Linked DNA regions of Homo sapiens. The protein of the gene in region 1 interacts with the protein of each later gene in a pairwise test. Each region holds a gene or a part of one and is shown in the gene's direction. Other genes may lie near its edges.

Region 1 (7,610 bases):
AACATTCCATGATCATGGGTAGGAAGAATCAATATCATGAAAATGGCCATACTGCCCAAGGTAATTTATAGATTCAATGCCATCCCCATCAAGCTACCAATGACTTTCTTCACAGAATTGGAAAAAACTACTTTAAAGTTCATATGGAACCAAAAAAGAGCCCGCATTGCCAAGTCAATCCTAAGCCAAAAGGACAAAGCTGGAGGCATCACGCTATCTGACTTCAAACTATACTACAAGGCTACAGTAACCAAAACAGCATGGTACTGGTACCAAAACAGAGATATAGATCAATGGAACAGAACAGAGCCCTCAGAAATAACGCCGCATATCTACAACTATCTGATCTTTGACAAACCTGAGAAAAACAAGCAATGGGGAAAGGATTCCCTATTTAATAAACGGTGCTGGGAAAACTGGCTAGCCATATGTAGAAAGCTGAAACTGGATCCCTTCCTTACACCTTACAGAAAAATTAATTCAAGATGGATTAAAGACATAAATGTTAGACCTAAAACCATAAAAACCCTAGAAGAAAACCTAGGCAATACCATTCAGGACATAGGCATGGGCAAGGACTTCATGTCTAAAACACCAAAAGCAATGGCAACAAAAGCCAAAATTGACAAATGGGATCTAATTAAATTCAAGAGCTTCTGCACAGCAAAAGAAACCACCATCAGAGTGAACAGGCAACCTACAGAATGGGAGACAATTTTTGCAACCTACTCATCTGACAAAGGGCTAATATCCAGAATCTACAATGAACTCAAACAAATTTACAAGGAAAAAACAAACAACCCCATCAAAAAGTGGGTGAAGGATATGAACAGACACTTCCCAAAAGAAGACATTTATGCAGCCAAAAAACACATGAAAAAATGCTCATCATCACTGGCCATCAGAGAAATGCAAATCAAAACCACAAGGAGATACCATCTCACACCAGTTAGAATGGCAATCATTAAAAAGTCAGGAAACAACAGGTGCTGGAGAGGATGTGGAGAAATAAGAACACTTTTACACTGTTGGTGGGACTGTAAACTAGTTCAACCATTGTGGAAGTCAGTGTGGCGATTCCTCAGGGATCTACAACTAGAAATACCATTTGACCCAGCCATCCCATTACTGGGTATATACCCAAAGGATTATAAATCATGCTGCTATAAAGACACATGCACACGTATGTTTATTGCGGCACTATTCACAATAATAAAGACTTGGAACCAACCTAAATGTCCAACGATAGACTGGATTAAGAAAATGTGGCACATATACACCGTGGAATACTATGCAGCCAGAAAAAATGATGAGTTCATATCCTTTGCAGGGAAATGGATGAAGCTGGAAACCATCATTCTCAGCAAACTATCTCAAGGACAAAAAACCAAACACTGCATGTTCTCACTCATAGATGGGAATTGAACAATGAGAACTCATGGACACAGGAAGGGGAACATCACACACCAGGGACTGTTGTGGGGTGGGGGGACGGGGGAGGGATAGCATTAGAAGATATACCTAATGCTAAATGACGAGTTAATGGGTGCAGTACACCAACATGGCACATGTATACATATGTAACAAACCTGCATGTTGTACACATGCACCCTAAAACTTAAAGTATAATAATAAAAAAAAGGGATATTGTGAAGAGTAAATTTGGCAGTACCTGGGACTTTTACTATATATTAAAAATATTGTAGACAACATCATGTTTTGAGAAGTGTTTTTGCTGAAATTGGTAACTAGAGAAAGCAAAAGGCATTAAATAACCCACTTTCCGAACTTCCAGTAGGGAGGCAGCCTCTTTCTCACCCAGTTTGCACTATAACTCCCTACCTCGCCATAGGAAAGTCAATTTGAAGTGAGGGATCTGTTAGGGAATGCAGAGAAGACAAACATTCCAGTGGTTCCTTGCCCCGAAGATGACAGAGGAAAACCTCATGAGGACTGAAAAGTTTGAGTGTGTATGTAGGACCAATTCTTCTAGCCCAGTTAAATATCACATGAGTCACCAGGCCTGCTAACTTGCCTTGGAACTACCACAGAGAAGGAAAAGCTTTGGAGGGTGATGGTGCAGTGGTATGGCCCGACAGAGAAGGGGACAAGCATGCCACCTTTAGTTCTAGGTTCCTGAGATGTGCAGAAGGTAGAACCCAGCCACCTGAGAACTGGGGTCCTGGAGGGTAGGTGAGATTGAAGGACAAAGACTGACTGCAAACCAATGAATGAGGCAGAGCACCCTCTGAGGCTTAGGAACTCGTGGGGTTCAGTAGGGCTCTCCTCGGCCAGCCCTGTGCACTGCCCTTGTCTACACTGCTGCTGGTGGTGGTGAACTAGACAGTGGGGATGGCCAACAGAAAGGGATAGAGCCTCTCTCTGGCCACTCACACAGGACGACATCATTTCCCTCTCAAATGAACATACACAGGGAGTTGGGGGGTTATTAAAGACCTCAACTTCTCCCCAAAACTACTGGAGTCTGTAGTTTGAATTGTGGTGATAGGAAGAAAATATCTAAGTGTTTCTAACAGAAGTGAGATATTAGTAATGAGAATTCACTGATGAGCTTGGAATCAGGTTAAGATGTGGGTAAGGGAGCCACCTAGCCAGAGAGAAAGGAAGATTAGCAGAAGAGAGTTAGAAATAAATTAACTGGAAAAAAATAAGCCTGTCATACATTAACGACTTGACGTTCCTCAACTATTCAGTTGCAGTTATTATCTGAAAACTAATCTTCCTTTTCCTAGCTAGTCTCTTGTCTCTTGTTATTGGGTTTGTGTTCACATTATCTATTTTGAAGATTTTCAAATCTTTTTGTTTTCTCCCCATATAATCATGGTAATGGAACATAAAATGCCTAAGACATGAATGAAAATTCACATGTCCTTGTTTGCTTCCTTGCTACTTTATCACAAATATTTCCAGGACAGCACATGTTTTTAATAACTTGTACGTTCTTATAATTATAATATAGATCCTTTGTAAACATATGAACTGCAAAAATAGAAGACTGTAAAAGTCACCCATATTTTACCATTCAGATATATTCTGGTTAATGTTTGCTGTATACTATTTCTAACTTTTTAAGTCATAGGTAAACTTTCTTAAAAATTAAAATGTGTCAGATTACACAAACTATTTTGTAAACCGCTTTTTCATTTTCAGCCTCTAGAAGAGTGCCTGGCACATCCTAAGTTTTCAATAAATATTTGTCAAATAAATGACTGAACTTATTTCCATACCATTAAATGTTTATCTGTGGTGTCATTTTTAACCATTGCACAGAATTCTATTGTGTGAAATATGATAATTTATCTAACAAGGCCCTGAAGAGCTGCAGAGGAATAAGGCCTTGTGATGGACACAGAGGTGCTCCATGCAGTCCCCCTTGAAGTGGGAGGTTGCCCTGCTGCTGGGAGTACTTGCAACCTCCAGCCTCCAGTTATCAGCCCCTTTCAGGACTTGCCTCAGCTACAGAAAGCTGCCTTCCCAGGGTAATCCACATTGAAGGGCAGATCATAGAGGAGCCCAGTGTCAGAGCTACTCTGACAGGCCATCTTCCTCCAGAGTTTCCTGAGGAGGGCTGCTTAAGACTGTCCCATCTATATTGCAGCTCAACTTCTTCCTCTGCCCAGTCCTGTTTCTCCCCTCTCCCTGCCATGGGTGTTAATCTCAGGGCACTGTCTAATAAATATATTGCACACTAAATTTTGTCTCAAAGTCTGCTCCTGAACAACCTAACCTGCAACAGAGATGATGCTGACCTTTGAGGAACTCCCAAGTCTATTGGTAAAAGCACTCAGTAAATTCTAACATTACTGCAGTTACCGATTCCTAACTCAGGTTAAACAAGCGATGGCGCATGTATACCATGATAGGTTATGCAGCCATTAAAATAATGTTCTGGGTGCCATGTATAACACATGATGGCTCCAGAAGTCAGGGAAGAAGGAAAAAAGAAGGGAAGGGAAGAGAAGAGAAAGGGAGGGAAGAAGAGGGGAGGGAAGAATTGGACATCAGATAATCACTTGAGCCCTCTCTCTCCGTGAATTTTTCCCAATCTGTTTCTTTCCACATCTCTTGCTCCTTATCAGTCTTTGGGCCACCTACAGTATGAGCATTACTTGGGCAATTACTGTCTCTCTGAATTTGGCATATGCAAATTATAGAAACTAAAACTGGACATGGCCCTACACAGGTAAGCACATATCAGCATCGCTGTGAGCGGTCAGGACTAACAAGCCTTCAACACACAAAAGCAGGAGTAAGGATCAAATTACACAAATCAAATCAAATCAAATCAAAATAAAATCCCTGAGTTTGTATTCCAGTAAAGCCCAAACCTAGGAGGGATCCAGGAAAGCGATGAGTGTGGCTGTCAAGGTGCTTCCATCTGTCAGAGTCACACATTCCAAAGCAGCAGAAATCAACTGACAGCCTCCGGTTACTCCCCCGCCTCAGCGAGGCAGGGCAGGCAGCGGAAAGCTCAGCCCATGTGAGGTGCCTCCTGCCAATCACAGACTACCCTTCCCTGGTCCTGGAGGTTCAAAGAATTGCAGGAGGGTAGAAAAGCACCTGGGTCGGGTGCAGACTGCGGAGCGGGCCCTACCGTGTGCGCAGAAAGAGGAGGCGCTGTGAGTAGACCGCTTTCCCTCTGCAGGGAATCTCCCGGGCTCAAGGGCTGGGTTGCTCTCCTGGGAGGGAAGCTAGCAGACTGGGAGGGAAAGGGGAAGAAGTTAGATTCTTGATTCATAAAGTCTGTCATTTTTTTCTTTGTAATTTAGGGTATTGTGACTGTCCTGTTCTCTTTTACTTTGAACCGTTGGAATTGCTTTCTTAATACCCTTGATATAAGTCTTGTTCTCATTAAACTTCTGGAGATATTACGCAGCCATCCTGCTTTCAACCTCAGATATCCCCACAGAAAGAACAAGAAAATCCAAGCACCCCGAGAAACCCTATATCTCCTGATTAAATCGCACATAGACAGTCACCTTTGTAGACCCCCAATTTCCTTGTGGAGTCAGAAAAGCAATAGAAAGTTTAACGAAATAGCTCGTGTTATTTCTTAATAATCTGTTCAGGCTAGCAGAGAGAAAGTTTCTTGGTCTTCTTGTCAGAAATCATTTGGTCCTGCCAACCTGTAATGAAATGTGTGAAGCAATTTACTCCCAGTTATTCTCTGCAAACACTTCTGCTTAATAAATGTGTCAGTTGAAGTAAGTCAACAAAGTAGCTTTATCTACGCAATGTTATTTTTACATAATTTGTTTTTACTCCTTACCAATTCTTTGCTCCACCATGATCTGCAGGACATAAAGATATTTTTCATTCTGATCACATTTTCACACAAAATACAAATTTAAGTTTCAAATAATGCTAGTATTATTTTATGTTTGCATTTGTTTATAAACCTAAAACTCCACTTCTAACTAGTTTTAAAGATTTTTAAGCCATTTAAGAATTCGTAGCCAGTCACAGTGGCACATGCCTGCAGTTCCAGCTATTCGGGAAGCTGAGGCCACGTGATCAGGAGTTCTAGTCCAGGCTGGGCAACATAGTGAGATCCTGTCTCTAAAAAAAATAAAAATAAATTTTTAAAGAAGTTTTGTTAACTTGAATGTCTTCTTTTAATGAAAGACAACGTTTCTTGAACATTTCTTGCCTGAGTTGCTAAGCACAACAGGAAAGAACTCATTAGGTTTTATAGATATACATACTTTGAGTATAAACAAAATTTAGGTTACATAGTTTTCAGACCCTATGAAGAAGTGGATTTTCTTTTTATTAACCTTCTCAGTGAGGAGAAAAATTTCTTACTTTGCTTTCTGCTCCAACAGATTGTTTTGCTTTCTGCTATAAAATAGTCTTTAAAATCAACTCACCTATTTTTTTTTTTTTTAACTGCTGGGAAGAATCATAGACTTTTACATCCAAAGGGGACCTTAGACATCATTTAATCAAGGGGAAAAAAAAGAAACTCAGAACTTTTTTTTTCTTTTATTTTCTTTTTTTTTTTTTTTTTTTTTTTTTTTTTTTTTTTGAGACGGAGTCACTCTGAGGCCCAGGCTGGAGTGCAGTGGCGTGATCTCTGCTCACTGCAAGCTCTGCCTCCCGGGTAGATGCCATTCTCCTGCCTCAGCCTCCCGAGTAGCTGGGACTACAGGTGTCTGCCACCACGCCCGGCCAATTTTTTGTATTTTTAGTAGAGACGGGGTTTCACCGTGTTAGCCAAGATGGTCTCAATCTCCTGACCTCGTGATCCATCCACCTCAGCCTCCCAAAGTGCTGAGATTACAGGCTTGAGCCACCGCACCCGGCCAAAACTCAGAACTTCTTTTTGACTTCTCCTGCTTACAATCTTAACCAGAGTAAACACCAGCCAGCCTTTAAATATGCTCTGGAATTTGTGCCTGATAGCCATGCAGGCTGCCCACAAACTTGATGGGCCACCATTCACCAACTGGGACAGAGACCACATTGGTGAGGGGGCACCATCATCACACACCGCCCTACCCGCCTGCCCACCCCCTCCCCCCCGCCCCAAGGACTCTCCATAGTACTCCTGCCCTGGAGCTGGGCATCTCTCTGGCAATGCCCACACCTGAGGCCCTCGTGCAACTGAGTGCTCCTGAGCCATTGCTTACAGCTAGTCCCTGATTTCCAATGGGTGGATGACTCCCATCATACTGGGAGCACCAGGAATCAAGAGCAGTGCTGTCCAGTAAAACTTTCTGTGATGAGGGAAATGTTCTAGATAATAGACACTAACCACATGTATCTAGGGAGTGCTTGAGATGTGGTTGGAGCAACTGAGGAACTGATTTTTACTTTTATTTAATTGAATTCTTTTGACTTTAAATAACTGCATGCAACTACTAACTACTGTATTAGTCAACACAGGTTTAGAGCTTTAAAGCAAGAAAAACTTATGGGCACTGTGAGCCATGGGTGACAGCCCTGGGAGAAACCTCCTCTTTTTGTTATTTCCAGGGACTTATCCTACCTTAAGTTGAAGCAGACCAGCAATTGTTGTGACCTACAATCTCCACACCCATCTTTACTCTGAGCCAAGGAAGTGTCTGTTCTTGTGCTGAGTTTCAGGGTGAGGGCTAAGGCAATCGCATATTGTGTTTCTTTGTTTCTTCCTCTCCTATTTTTCCTTTTCTTTTTTTCTCCTTTGTTAATTCAAATTTCTCTAGCATGAACTAAAGTTTGAGGTGTGGTTTGTGTGTTCTCTGGTACAACAAACTTGGGTGAGGAAAAGAGGTAATGAACTTGAAAAAATGATCTCATGCTTACTGGGCGAGTCTCACTTCTTTTTCTTCTGCTTTGCAAATTGGTTTGTTTAGTGAGCAATTGTTTTTAGACCTTTCAATGTGTCTGGAAACATCAACACTACGGGTATGATTAATTTTTATAGGAAAACAAACTGAGTGAAAGCACAATAAAGAAAAAACAAGAAATATAATTCTAGCTTTAAAAAAATCTGCACTCTTTAAAGCAAAGGAACTCCCAGGGTATTGAGCAATTTGAGTAAATCATCATCATACCAGGCCACAGGGCAGTTTTCCCACAGGGCGGGGTGCACAGGGGCTATTCCT
Region 2 (7,826 bases), on another chromosome or scaffold:
ATTAGTTGGCAAAAATGGTTGCAGAGCAGTAAATTGGTCAGAGCTAAGAGATCTTGTAATGATAAAGAAGAGAAGAATGTGATTTGTATACACTACTTTGGTGTCAGCATAGACGAGTTGGGCTATTGTCATTAAACAGACCCTGTCCTTAGGGGACACTGGCATTTATTTTGCATATTAATATACATAGGCACCAGTATCTGAGGTTAAGTGTTAAGAATTTTAAGAGTGTTTTCTTAAGAATAATACCTTTCTTTGCTACATATGTACTATTTGAAGAACCATTTCTTAAGCACAAAGGAAACCCATATGGGAAAAAAAAACATTTTGTGCTTTTAATTTAGAATTATATAGGCACTGGAAAAATATTTTTATTAAAAGGATACAAAATAATATTTTTTCTAGATTCAAAATGAGGAATTACAGTGCTTAGATCTATCACCTCAACTTTACATGACTCCTACTTCCTAATATATTTGTTTTCACATTTTCCCTCTGTTCTAATCTTTTATTCCAGATATCTCTAAGGCTTTTACCAATCTCTTTAGCTGAGATTGTAATATAATTTTCTCTGATACTGTATCTCAGTTCACTGCTGACTGATGTGCCACCTACATCCATTCTCTGCATTGTTTCTATTTTACCCACCCAATAGCATTCAACAGAAATGTTCCTACCTGGTGTCAGACATTGAGAAATGTTGAAATCAAAAAGATAAATAAGATACATTATCTGTCCTCAGAGATACAATGAACTGGTAAGAAAAACACTTATAAAAATATAATTTTCAAATAATGGCTAATCTTGGTGGATTAAACACATCTATTTCCTCATGAAACCCAACTAAATGACTATAAAGGGTCTGGGAGAAAGTCATAAATCCAAAAATTCAAAAATAATATGAGAGAAATTGGATCATTTTTTTAAATGTTAGAAACCAGCTAGACAAGCAATAAATGACTTAGCAGCCTCCGGAAAGTGAAAACCTGACTGACGGAATTGGAAGCTTAGAAAAAATTTGATTCTCTTTGTAGAACCCCAGTAAGTCTCAAGAATTATAAGTGCTTTCAGTTGAATATGTCTGGGGACACAGCTAATTGTCTGAGAAGGTAGTTGTATTAGTATGTTCTCACATTGCTAAAAAAGACATAACCAAGACTGGGTAATTTACAAAGAAAAAGAGGTTTAATGGACTCACAGTTCCACATGGTTGGGGAGGCCTCAGAATCATGGTGGAAGGCAAAATGCACATCTTACATGGCGGCAGACAAGAGAGATTGAGAGCCAAGCAAAAGGGAAAACCACTTATAAAATCATCAGATCTGGTGAGACTTATTCATTACCACGAGAAAAGTATGGGGGAACACGCCCCCATGATTCAATTATCTCCCAGTGGTTCCCTCCCACAACATGTGGGAATGATGGTAGCTACAATTCAAGATGAAATTTGGTGGGGACACTGCCAAACCATATCAATAGTGAATACTTAAGTAAGTGAATTCCCTGAGAATAGTGAATTAAGATCCCTGAAGGCCTAGAGTATAACCAGTCCTAACTGGAATAGGAGAATATAAGGCGCCAGGAAGGGAGAGTGTATACAGAAAAATACTAATGAAACAGATCAATTACCTGTGGGTCTATAGACACTGAGATTTACATTTATGGTGGAGTATTTAAAACAACTTATTTTCAGGTATGTAGAAAACAGCATATGAAACATGAGGCAGTTACTAACTTCAGAGAGAAAAATGGTCAAAAGGAAGCGTAATCATAACACTCATAATGAATTAGCCATTAATGATTTAAATACTATAAATTGAGTTAACTAAAAAATCGTGATAAAACTATATGGGAGAATGAGGGAAAAGGAAGTGTTATGGTGGGAAGGTGTGTCCAGGGTAAAAATGAAGGATATAGGGGTTAGTCTATTGTCTTCAGTAGTAGGAGGTTAGTGCATAATATATAAAACCAAAAATTAGAACAGTATTTAAAATCATTCACTTAGAAATATGGAGTCAACACAAAAAGAAACAATTAAAATTTAAATACTTGCTTCTGGAGAAAGAAAATTGATTGGGAACTGGGGAAGGGGGCACTAATGATTTCTTTCAGGCTAAATCCAGTGAACATTTTACTGTTGTTAGCTTGTCTCTCTGAAGTATTTAATAATAATTGAATGATTTCTTCCTACTGAAATATTTCTGTGCTCAAAAAATGATAAGTAATTTATTTATATTACCTAATATAACCCTTTCAACAACGCTATGACATATTACTATCTATATTTTACAGATGAGTAAACTGAGGTGCAGAAAGCCTAAGCAACTTGCTCCAGCTCACATAGGGCATAGGATTCAAAATCCAGCTCAAGGCCGGGTGCAGTGGCTCACGCCTGTAATCCCAGCACTTTGGGAGGCTGAGGAGGGTATATTACTTGAGATCTGGAGTTCGAGAACAGCCTGGCCAAAATGGTGAAACCCAGTCTCTGTTAATATATAATATAACATATTATATAGAGATACATTCTATTATATATATAATATATTCTATTATAATATAATATATATTCTATTATATAATATATATTATATATTATATCTATTATATATAATATATCTGTATATGATATATAATTATATATAATATATAGATATTCTATTATATATAATAGGATATATATTCTATATATATAGAATATATATATTTCTCTGTCAAATTTCATGTTATTGTTCTCTTGAAATTGTTATCTGCTAATAATAACCTGATACTGTCTCATTTCATACCATATGGAGTGGGAGGAGAGACTGATGCCTGTCCTTAGTCCAGAATTTCAACCTCTCTTAGGAAGTCATGAAACTCTGTACCCTTGTCTTCTGCAATGCCACATTTTCCGAGTTTGCCTGCTATCTTCCTTACCCTCTTTTTCATAATCCTCTGGGAAATCTTATTTCTGATTATACTGTCTCTATCCTCTAGAAAAAGGGTTTGACGTTTTCTGCCTCCACCCACAAGCCTGGGTGACCTCATCCCTCTGGGCGAAGAGCTGTTGGGTTTACCTCTATAGCCATGTTCTCATTCCCTAGCTCCTGCCAGTTATCCACTTCTTGTCAACTTTATTTGAAGGTCCCTACACAACTCTGATCAAATACGTTCAAAATTTTACTATTTGTTCCTGCAGTTCTGTCCTGGTCCATGTCTATTGCCTTACTGAATGGCTCTATCACTCATTCAGTTTCCTAACCCAGAATCTGAGTGTCATCCTTTCCTGTTTTTTCTCCTGATTTACACATCCATTATACCAACAAGTACTGTCATTTCTTGTTCCTAAGCATCTTTCAAATCCATTCATTCTCTCCAACTTCACTAGCATCACAGGTAGTTCAGTAACCATCATCCCTTCCCTAGAGAACTGCCTCTACCTTGAGCCTAATTCTCTGATTTTATTATTATTTATTCCTGTTGTCTGAAACCAGGACAATATTTCTGAAATATAATCTATTTTAATTTTGAGAATCGTAATTTCAGATTATAGACCACATAGTTTTTGGAATTAAGTAAAACTGGATTTCAATCTCATCTATACCAGCTATACGAATATCTCTGAGTTTCAGTTTCTTCTTCTGAAAAATAGAAATAATAATATTACCTTCCTTCATTCCCTTTCCATTTGTGTGTCTTTTGCTCATTCATCAGGTCTCCAATTAGATGTCCCCTTATCTAGGAAGTCTCCTCTGCCTACCCAATGTTGGGTTCATTGATCCTCCTATGAGCTCTCTTAGGATATCCTACTTTACCTTGCAGATCACTGATTACAATGGGTTGTAATGATGTATTTACTCATCTGTATTGCCACTTTACCTTGCAGATAACTGATAGTAATGGATTGTAGTGATTTATTTACTGGTCTGTTTTTCCAAGTAGTCTATAAACTCTTTGAGTGAAAATTATTTTTTACCATTTTTTCAGAAGCACACGGCACACTGCTTGGCTTATAGTAGTTTTTCTAAAGAAAATGCTGAATGAATGAAAACTGCACACCACTTTGCTTTCCTCCTCCATGTAAAGTAGGCATTATTTTATTTTACAAATGAATCTTAGGTTCAGGAGATTAACAGGGCCATGCAAGAAATGTTTGCCATTGGTTTGATCTTAGTCAAAGACCAGCTCGTTCTATGATACCAGCTGCTTCCTTCACTTAGAAAGGTGTTGTTTTATTGCCATACAACCAACTTGTTGCCATTTTATGGCCACTCCTGATGAATCTCTAAAGGTGGAATTTCATGTAAATAAAACATTTAAGTTGTGTATATTAAGGTTGGTGCAAAAGTTAATTGTGATTTTGGCCATAAAATAATGGCAAAAACTGCAATTACTTTTGCACCAACCTAATAAAATAGTAATAGTAGTGCTCCAGGAAGACAAGAGTACTGTGGAAATGTGTGACCCTGTGAAAGGGGGTATTTACAAAATACCATTTACTTGTTTATATAACGACTTTTGAAGAGAGTCTGGCATACAGTAAATCCTCTACCACTGATATCCACAGTAATTAGCAGTATTATTTTCATAGGAAAGACTGTATCAGGCAGCCCCTGCTTTTTCAGCAAATTTCAAAATAGACATCCACACCCATATTGGGAACACAAAATCAGTTAATGCTTCCGATATAAAAGAGGAACTAGCTGTGCGTCTCAGAAATTCTCAGCACAGCCTTTAAGGTTCCAAACATCTGCTAGAAGAGGAATGCAGATTTAAACTGAGTGAGGTGTGGAGTGGGGGAAGTTGATTGGGTCTAGACCAAAGAACTTTGAGGAACTTGCCCAGAGCCCTGCATGCATCAGACCTACAGCAGACATTGCAGGCCTGAAGAAAGGTAGGTCCAGGGACTTGCCTTCCTAGGCTTTCGGGCTGATGGCTTGTTTCACTTCCTGGGTTAAGAATTTCTGGGAGGGGAATGAGAAGAATAATGAGGCCACTTCCCATGACCCAAGCTGGTATTCAGGGTTGGGGTGGGTTGAGTGCACCTTTAAATGTGCATTCGGTGGGGGGATGAGGAACAGTTTTTGCTACAGTCGATAGGAGTTAGAAAAGCCTCCTAAAGGCTGACATTGGAGGCTGGATAAGGTTGTTTAGTTACTTTTGTCCCCTGAGTCTTCAGGATATCAAAACACTGAAAGCAACATTTTAAACCTTTGACTAGTTACCTCATCTACTGTTAATGCCCTTCTTCTGTGGTCTTTATTCTCTGTGTCTGACTGGTTATTTTTATAACTCAGGATTTAAGAACAGATGTATCACATGCAGAATTTGGTGTACATGGAGTAGGGCACAGGCAGGGTCCCCAGCCTTGTACATTTAGATGGGCTGTGGCCTGACCTAGTTCTCCAGTGGTCTTTGGCACTATTCATGGGGCACCCAGGCAGTAAACTGAGGCTGCTCATGATAAAATCTGCTAATGAAAAACACCTTGTAGACTTTTAGCATTCTTAGGATAAGAAAGAAGCTTGTAAGTGGTCGTGGCCATTGTAATCTTTCCCCAGATGAAGTAAAAGAAGCCAATAAAAGGGAAATAATGTACCCAGAATCACACAAGTTAACAAAAGGGCTGGGAGAAAAACAAAAACAAAAACAAAAACAGAATTCTTGGTTCCTAGCCCGGGCCTTTCCCCCTTTTCCCTTCCCATGCCACCACTTCTGCATCCCCATCATCCTTCTAAAACCATCCAGATTCAGGCCTCATTTTGGGTTTCTAGTCTATTTGACAACTTTGCCAAGAAAAACGGATGGCTGTTTGTACCACTCTCCTCATGCTCTCTCCTTGCAATTGTGACCCATGAGGAGGATGGTGACATAAAAATGAGGAAATAAGAGACTGGTGGTGCTGCTGATCCACAAGGTGACTGGGGCCAATAGAAGAGGGAAGGGTGGTCTGGGTTTCCCCACCTCTTTATCAGGGGTGTGGGGGAAAGACATTGTATTTCTTAAGAGCCTGATGCATATAGGTGATGTGGCAAAACCAAGGTTTAAATTCTTCTCCAACCTGGAAGAAATGTCCCTCATATGCATCCAATATTCTCAGCAGTTAAAAAAAAAATTGAATATAGAGAAGTCAAGCCCTGGATGGTAAACACGTTTTTGTTCTTGGGGACTTCATGTGCCGTAGATAATTAACACAAGGATTTCTGTGGTGGAAAAAGAGGAGGCAGTTATATGAATTTATGGCCAGAGTTTCTTAGAATGACAAAGCACCAGCCTTGAATGACCAGAACCTGACCTATGTTACCAAAGAATTATGGGAAAGCATAGGAGTCAGTTACAAGCTTTATTTTGATATAATTGCTCTGCCCTCGAGGAAGCTTACAGTCTTACCAGAGAGGCACTAAACACAGAGAGAGAACCACCAGTGCGTTTGATAAGACAGACCCAACATGTCCTAAATTCTCAGTCTGAAGGTGTGCCTGAGAGATTGAGGCAGAGGTTCTTTTACATTAAAGAAGAATAAAGTACACATTTAGATGGACTAAGAAGAATCATCTTTAGTCACTTTCCAAATAACTTTGACTTTTGCAATGTAGAAGGAACATAACACATTTCTTAAACCCTTATTTACCGTCATAGGCTGACTAATCCACATGTGGGCAATGGTGGGGAAGTGGGGGAATAGTGTCTGAGAGAAGATAGAGACTATAAAATGCTGTTCATGTGTGAGAAGATTAGATGATGTGGTGGGTTTGTTTTTGTTCTTACAAGGTGGTCACAAGAGGGGTGGAACATTCCTGCAAATGGTTTCAATATATGCAGATGTCTCAATATAGGAATGAAATTACGTCTTTGGAACAACTTAAATAAGTCAAATATACTTGGAGCTTTAAAAATTAAAAGGAGAGAGATTCGAGGTAAGACTACAATAGATTTGTGCTGAAGTAGCCGAGCTTTTGTTATCAACATTAAAAATTTTAACTTTATGCTAAGGGTGGTGAAATATAAAAGAAGGCTTTTAAAGGGGATGGTGACTCAATTGTTTTTGTATTTGATCATTCTGGCTACAACATCAGTGGTGGATTGAATATCCAAAGCCACAAATGGACACAGGGAACATTCAGAGGCTATAATGAATACTTCTGATAAAAATAGAATAATGGCTTGCCTTGAGAAGATGGGAGAAATACACAGAGTTGAAAAATGGTTGTGTAGGATTAGAATGAGATTGATTGAGCATAGAGGGTAGGCAATGGAAGGAACCAATGACAAACTATCAGATATTTTTGAGACAGGGTCTCACTGTGTTGCCCAGGCTGGAGTACCCTGATGCCATTGTGGCTTACTGCAGCCTGGGCCTCAGCCTCCTGAGTAGCTGGGATTACAGGCGCCCACCACCACACCCAGCTAATTTTTGCATTTTGTGTAGAGATGGGGTTTCACCATGTTCCCCAGTCTGATCTCAAACTCCTGGGCTCCAGCGGTCCTCCCACCTTGGCCTCCTATACTGCTGGGATTACAGGATTGAGTCAAAATGCCCAGCTTTAAACTTCCAGATTTTTAACATGGATAGTGTAGTTAATTGCTGGACCTTCCACCAAGAAAGGACACTTGTAATTTCATAGCCCTCTTAGGGTTCCTGTTCCCTTTAGCTCTTGCCACTCTTGATTAGCAACTACTTACAGGGCTCTGAAATAATCTCCACATAGGAAGATTTGCGCCACCTTACTTTTTTGAAAGGGAAATTTTGAGGAAGACTGGATGTCTTCTATTTAGGTCTTCTAAGGTTTGAAATAAAAATAACCTCTTCTCCCTTCTGGGACAAGTAGGTAAATTGTCAATTTATG
Region 3 (7,020 bases), on another chromosome or scaffold:
TATCTTGCCTCTAAGGAATGGGGAATCAGGGATTGTTCCAAGATGCTGGAGTAATCAGGCAAGTCAGAAAGGCTTCCCAGGCCGTGGTTTGGAGGGTGAGTGGGATTTTGGCAGGCTGCAGGGAGCAAGGCATCTCGGAAGTAGGAATAGGAGGTTCAGCCATGTCCAGGAATATAACCTGGGGATGTGTGTTCAAGGAGTGTGGGCCACGCAGGATCAGCAGAGGGTGGGCTTCCAGAGCTGGGGGCTGAAGACCAGGAGCCAGCACACAGGAGCCTGGGGACATGGTCAGTTGTTCCTCCACTGTCGTCCTCCAGGGATGAGGAGAGCCCTGGAGAACTGTGTAGGCTGGGAGGTGTGACGCCACCTTCCTTTCTTTGATGTTTTGGGATTAGCCTTTGTCCCCTTTCTGTTTATCCTTCCTCCCAGAGTCCCGTCTGTAATGCCCTCAGGGTCATTACAGAAAATTCTGTCCCACATCCATTTAAGTTTCAAGCAGTGAAGCGTCTTGAACCTCCCCAAGAAAATTATTCTGAAGCCCCGTTGTCCAGGAAACTTCTGTTCAGGGCCTCGTTTTTTTTCCTTCTTTAAAATCTCTCCCCACTCCTTCATTATGCCCCCTTGTACCAAACGCCACACTCTCCCTCCCCTCCCGTGTGTTTACACCATGCCCCATCTCTGCAAAACCTCATCTGAAAGCCCCTGGTAGTCGTCACTTGGCAAAGCTGCATGGATTTAGCTCCTTTAATCTTTTCTGGTAAATTAATCCCCCAAGCGCCTTCATTACTTATGCTGCTCTTCCCCGAATTCCCTTCAATTTGCCGACGCCTTTGCAGTTCTGCTGAGCCCAGCACCAAACAAGATGTCCTACACTGTGAGGCTGTTTTGCCTGGGGGGACTGTCACTCGGCATTTCTTTGGTGCTTCCCTCCAAAAATCTCAAAATACTCGTCCAGCTTCCAGCTACCACAGTTGTCTCTTGTGCCCAGTTCTGGGCCCCCCTTCACCCTGTGCTAATACACCACGAGGACTTTCGTGTGGGAGGGACGCCGGGAGTCATTCTTCCAGATGGACAGTGTTGGAGGGACCATGACTCCTCCGAAAGTCTAAGCTGAATTTGGGGTAGGGGGTGTGCATGCCTGTGTTTCTGGAGCAAGGGGCCATGTGTTTGCATTTTCTTTTTGGGAAATGTTCATCAAGTGATACCACGGGTTGGAGAAATACCAGTCTGGTCCCAGGCCTCTCATTTTATCAGTAAGGAAACTGAGGTCCAGAAAGGGGACACATCTCAGCCCAAGTCCCACAGCTCTGTACTAGCAAGACCTAGATTAAAATGAACGTTTGTAGGGATAGAATTTTGTCCCTGTTTGTAGGTGAACTGGCTGAAATGTAGACCAAGGAGTTCCCTGAGTGGGCTGGGGCACTGTTGGTCCTTCGTCACTTGGTAGCCGCCCTACCTTCTTTAGCCCAGTAGTTACCACAGCTCCAAAGACCCCATGAAGTCAGCAGCCATGAGCCCCTCCCCACAGACCAGTAAGGGAATACTGTCCAAAGGTGCAGGGCACTTCCATCCGTCTTTCCATGCAGGGCCACCCCCCTCTACTTCACCCCAGAGGCTCAGACGAGCCCTCCCCATCATTCCGCTAGGATCCCCATCATCCCACTAGGATCTCCATCATCCCGCTAGGATCTCCTTCATCCCACTGGGATCTCCTTCATCCCGCTAGGATCCCATCATCATCCCACTAGGATCCCCATCATTCCACTAGGATCCCATCGTCATCCCGCTAGGATCCCATCGTCATCCCGCTAGGATCCCATCGTCATCCCGCTAGGATCCCATCATCATCCCGCTAGGATCCCATCATCCCGCTAGGATCCCCATCATCCCGCTAGGATCCCATCATCCTGCTAGGATCCCCATCATCCCGCTAGGGTCCCATCATCCCGCTAGGATCCGCATCATCCTGCTAGGATCTGGCTTGTATTGCCCCCAGGCGCTCTGGCAGCCATCACTGCTTCCCTGGTTTCCCCAGGTCTCAGGCCATCTGTGTGGGATCACTTTATACCTTCCATGCTTTTTCTCTGGGCTGCAGACAGTTAGCAGGTCTCAGTAAGAACTCACTACTACAGTGGAAGATCTTGTGTGGTTGGCATTGGGCTGGCCAAGGCAGCCCAGGACCCGGCCTCCCACTCTCTCTCCCTGTTGCTTTCAGGTCTCCATTTGTCCACATCTGAGAAAATCTTCCGTTTCCAGGACACAGGGCTGCTCCTGCGGGTACTTGGGAGCCTCTTCCTTGGCGGGATTCTCGCCTTTGGTTTGGGCTTCTCTGAGTTCCTCCTGGTCTCCAGAACCTCCAGCCTCACTCTCTCCATTGCCGGCATTTTTAAGGTACAGACTCGGGCGTGATGCCAGTCCTGTCTTAGAGAGGGAGCCCCCAGGGGTTTCTCACCAGCAGCTTCAGTCCCAGCTCCTGCACCCCAGGGCCCTGCAGAGAAGAGAAGGAAGTGCCCCATTAGGTGCCAGGCACTTTGCTGAGTGCTGTGCTGGCCCCTCCTTCTGCCTTGACCACAGCCCTGTGAGAGGGTATGATCACTCCCATCCCACAGACAGGGACACAGATGGAGAGCCGCCCCTCCCCAAGGGCACAGCAGGGGCCTCAAAGCCAGCTCTGACTCTGCTAGGCCTGGAATGCATTCACATTTTACCTTGACTGCCAACTCTGGCACTGGGCAGTGGCCTGGAGCCACAGGTTGAACAGCCCCTATCCAGACTCATCAGGAAAGAGTTCCGTGATTGACTGGCGGTGTCCTCCAAGGCCATGGCCAGGGCTAGTGAGACCCTGAGAAAGCACCCCTGTGGCCAGCCTTGCTGTACCTCTGCCTCGCAGGCCTGTCCTTCCCTCTCATACCTCTTCTCACTTCTCCTTCTCCCTCCCACACATTTCAACAGTCCTCCCTGTTCAGGGGCAGGGAGGGACTTTTCTCTTTGGCCAGGCACACACCAGTGTTGAAGCAGTGTTGCCTAAACCCAGAAATGCAGGCCTGTCCAAGGGTCTTCTGGTGGCCAGCCGCATGCTGAGGCATGGCTGTGGTTCTTGGATGAACGGCCTTGCCAGTCCTGTTTGGAGTCTCTGTTTATAGAGAGCCCCGGGACCAGTTGTGTCTTCAGTCCGGGGTAACACAGCATTCTCACACATAGGCTCAGGGCTCTCTTCTGTGGCTGCCTTCTGGGGCAGCCGTCCTTTATCCTTGTGGATAAGGCGCGATCTGGACACCCTGGTCCCCAGCCTGGGATCTGGTTTGCCTCTTTTATTCCTGACAGAATTCCATGACAAGCACCTCCTTTGTTGCATCTCACAAAAGGAGGCTGGCGGGACAGCGCCGCAAGCCGGCCGGGTCCCCTGACCTCTCTGCCTGCCTGGGCCCAGGATTTCAGTAAGATCTTGATCTGCCCACCTGAGTGTACCTAGTGCCCCCACCTTCCACCCTCCTGGTCAAGCAGCCAAATCTGCCTGTTGATCATGCTCCCTCCTGCTTCTCTGCCCCCAGGAAGTCTGCACTTTGCTGTTGGCAGCTCATCTGCTGGGCGATCAGATCAGCCTCCTGAACTGGCTGGGCTTCGCCCTCTGCCTCTCGGGAATATCCCTCCACGTTGCCCTCAAAGCCCTGCATTCCAGAGGTAACCCAGAGTCCCTTCCAGAAGCCTCTGTTTTCTGTTCTTCTCCCTGTGACTCTTAGTGATTCTGATGCAGGAAGTGTGCCCGGTGGCTCTGCTGCCGTCACTCCTCTAGGAAGATGTGGGGGTCATCTCCAGAGTGGGTGGGTGGGGCCTGGGTGACTCAGCACACATGCAAATCAGAGCAAACCAAGAAAACCACGACTGGGCCTGTAACTGTGGTCTCTCTCTATCCCAAGGTGATGGTGGCCCCAAGGCCTTGAAGGGGCTGGGCTCCAGCCCCGACCTGGAGCTGCTGCTCCGGAGCAGCCAGCGGGAGGAAGGTGACAATGAGGAGGAGGAGTACTTTGTGGCCCAGGGGCAGCAGTGACCAGCCAGGGCAAATGGCTTAGAAGCAGGCCACTCCCCAGCCTGCTGCCAGCACTCACTGTGCTCAAGCCGCCAGGGCTCATCATGGTAGCTGGGAGCTGTGGACGGGAGTCACCAGGTGGTGGGGCCAAGCCAGGGACTCATGACTTTTGCCCCTCCCTTCAGAGCCTGGTCACACAAGGGGCGAGCACCAGGCCAGCCTGGGACTGGCCAGAGCTGGGCCCAAGCTGCGCTGGAATCGCAGCAGGAGAGGGGAGTGGGCTGGTTCTTCCCACCACTTCCCAGGCTCTGACAGCCGAGACTCATTTCCAAGGCACAGCAGCTTTCTAAAGGGACTGAGTTTGGACTGGGTTTTGGACCTCCAGGGGCTGGAGCTTCATCACCTGGGCAGTGTCTTTTCTCAGAGAGCAGGTTTCTTTATAGTTTGGAAATAAATGGTTCACGGTCCACTGGCCGCCTTGTGTTGCTGGAGACGTGGGGGCAGGGAGGGGACAGTGTGGGCCTGGCCTCTCCTTTCCTTTCCCTGCCTGGAGCCTTCTTCAAATGTCTGGTCTTAAGCCAGGCCTCCTTCATTTTCTCGCTCCTGTTAGAACACCAGTCCCCTCCCCAGTGGGGCCCCACTGCACCTGCTGGCAGGAAATAAATGAATGTTTACTGAGTACTGCATTCTGGAGACCTTACATGTTTTCACAGCCTAGTTTGAATACTGGCTTTGTCACTAGCTGTGTGACCCTAAGCAAATGACCTAACCTGTCTGTGCCGTAGTTTTTTAATCTGTGAAATGGGGATAATGTCTATCTCAGAGTCCTTTTGAAGATTGAGTCATTATTAGTAACAGATTAAATGTTATATAAGCATTTCTTTTAATCCTTTTAACAACTAAGAGACTAAAGCCTGGAAAAGATAAAGAGCTGCTTAAGTGGCCGGGCTGAGGTTCACATCCAAGTCTGTGTACGTCTGTGTGTGCACGTGCTGCACGTGACATCCACACAGCCTCCTGGAACTTCATGGGCCCCTGGGGCTTGGGCTTTCCACTCCTCCTTGGCCAAGTCCCACGTCTTCTCTAGACTGCAGGCCTCTCTCAAATGAGGAAGGGAGGGGGCAAGACCCCAGCTCTGATGTGCTGTGGACTGAGTCTACTCCTGTAAACTGGTTCCCGGGCCATGGGAGACCCCCCCGGCCCTTGGGGACAAAGCTTTCCAGGCGAAGTGCTCCTAGGCACTCACAGCAGGTGGCGCCATTGCACCACACTGGCTCCCAGAGCCCAGCTGCCCTGCCACGGCTATCCAGACACCGGCAGAAAAGGGGTGCTTGGAAGAGGACAGTGGGTATCCATGGGTGGGGACAAGGATAGGGCTTGTTCTAAAATTGTTTCCATCAGGTTGGAGTCACTAAAGCTCGTTCGGTTAAGCCCAGGAGAACTTTAATACTTTAAAAATGGGTCTGCAAACTTCCTGTAAAGGGCCAGATAGTAAATATTTGGGGTTTGGGGACCATATGGCGTCTGTTGCAGCTACTCTGCCATCGTAGCACAAAAGCAGCCATAGATGACACAGACCCAGGGTGTGGCTGTCCCAGTGAAACCCCATTTACAAAAGTAGGATCCAGCTTGCTGGCTGAAGTTTACCAGCAGGAGAACCCTCAAGAATTCTCGAGTCCAACTTCCACTTCTGCAGCAGGAGACTGAAGCCAGGAGGGGGCGGTGACTAGCCCGAGGCCCTCAGAGCCTCCGTGCTCAGGAGTCAGACCGAGATCTGCCTCTAATTCAGATTCCCAGCACAGACTCAGCAGGCGGAGGTGGAGCACCAAGGGCGCTTGGAAGCGGCCTCTTATCTGGCTCCTGCACCTCTGCCCCCCTTGGATTCCGCAAGCTCAGAGGCCAAGATTAAAGGAGGCTCGTGCTCCAGCTGGATGATGTGGGAAGAGCCAGCCAAGGAGGGGGGCCAGGGCCTCCTCCGTCTTAGAGGCTGCTTGGGATGCAGGCTGCTTGGGCGGCAGGGGGAGTCTGCCAGAGCCCCGCTGGCTCAGGTGGATGAGAGCTTCCTGTCTGCTCCCCCACTGCCCGCCTCCCAGCACAGGGAGCAAGCGTTGCTGTCTGGTGCAGTAATTACAAGGTGCAGAGCGGGGGCCCTTACCTCGCACATGTTGGGTTCAATGACAGCCCTTCATTTAGCAGCAATTACCAGCTGAACCTAAAGGAGGGCTCCCTCTCCTCCCCCACCCAGCCCACCCAATCGCCTGGCCTCCCAGGCCAGACAGCGTCCACCTCGGCATTGAGCCCTAGAACCACCCATGCTGTCTGCAGCCATTGCATCTCAGGGCTGCAGCATCACCATGGCAACGCGGTGCTTGCACAGGTTGAGGGGAAGCTGAGGATGTGACTTGTCTCTCCAAGGCTGTGGTGTCTGTCCCCACACAGCCCCAGCTCCGAGGCTTCTGCAGAAGGGGCGGAGAGAGGACTGACCTGCAGGTTCGAGTTTCAAGTGCTTACCTGCCCACCACCTCTCCCAGGGGCCCACAGTGGAAGGAAGGTTAATGGCTCCAATATGTGAGGACGTCCACAGTTGGTGTTGTGGTGGCGGTGAGAATGGGCTGCAGTTTGCCTGTGGGAGGGACCTGAGCCATCAGGCAGGGCCCGGCATACCTTCATCTTCACTCCGGTACCCTTTTCTGCCTTGAGGGCTCAAGGGATTGTCTCCATCTGTTTCTGCTTTATCCTGCTGTGAAAAACCTGAAAATCCCAGTGGCTTGAGAGTAGTTACATGGCACCAAGAGAATTCTCCTCATGGTACTTGCTGCAGCTTCCTGCATCACACACTAGTGATGGACTGAGGGTGGGGACTCCCAGGCCATCCATTTAGGTCGACAGCATTCAGTGAGTACTGGCTACATGGCAGACACTGCCGGACTTGGGGACAGAGACATTCATTTTTGGAGTCAGCCTTCCTCCCAGCCCAGGAAAGTGATGAGGCA

The links.
Region 2: the proteins of UPK1B (region 1) and MS4A4A interact in binary tests that used the Homo sapiens proteins (3 or more experiments, as listed by UniProt).
Region 3: the proteins of UPK1B (region 1) and SLC35H1 interact in binary tests that used the Homo sapiens proteins (3 or more experiments, as listed by UniProt).

Annotation. Positions count from the first base shown.
Region 1 is NC_000003.12:119,168,999-119,176,608, forward strand, and holds the start of UPK1B (uroplakin-1b), read left to right. Parts: upstream 1-4,599; 5' UTR 4,600-4,640; intron 4,641-7,610. UniProt on the Homo sapiens protein: Component of the asymmetric unit membrane (AUM); a highly specialized biomembrane elaborated by terminally differentiated urothelial cells.
Region 2 is NC_000011.10:60,275,844-60,283,669, forward strand, and holds the start of MS4A4A (membrane-spanning 4-domains subfamily A member 4A), read left to right. Parts: upstream 1-4,822; 5' UTR 4,823-4,832; coding exon 4,833-4,873; intron 4,874-6,750; exon of another isoform or gene 6,751-6,896; intron 6,897-7,826.
Region 3 is NC_000020.11:46,347,422-46,354,441, reverse strand, and holds part of SLC35H1 (solute carrier family 35 member C2), read left to right. Parts: intron 1-2,215; coding exon 2,216-2,391; intron 2,392-3,551; coding exon 3,552-3,681; intron 3,682-3,917; coding exon 3,918-4,048; 3' UTR 4,049-7,020.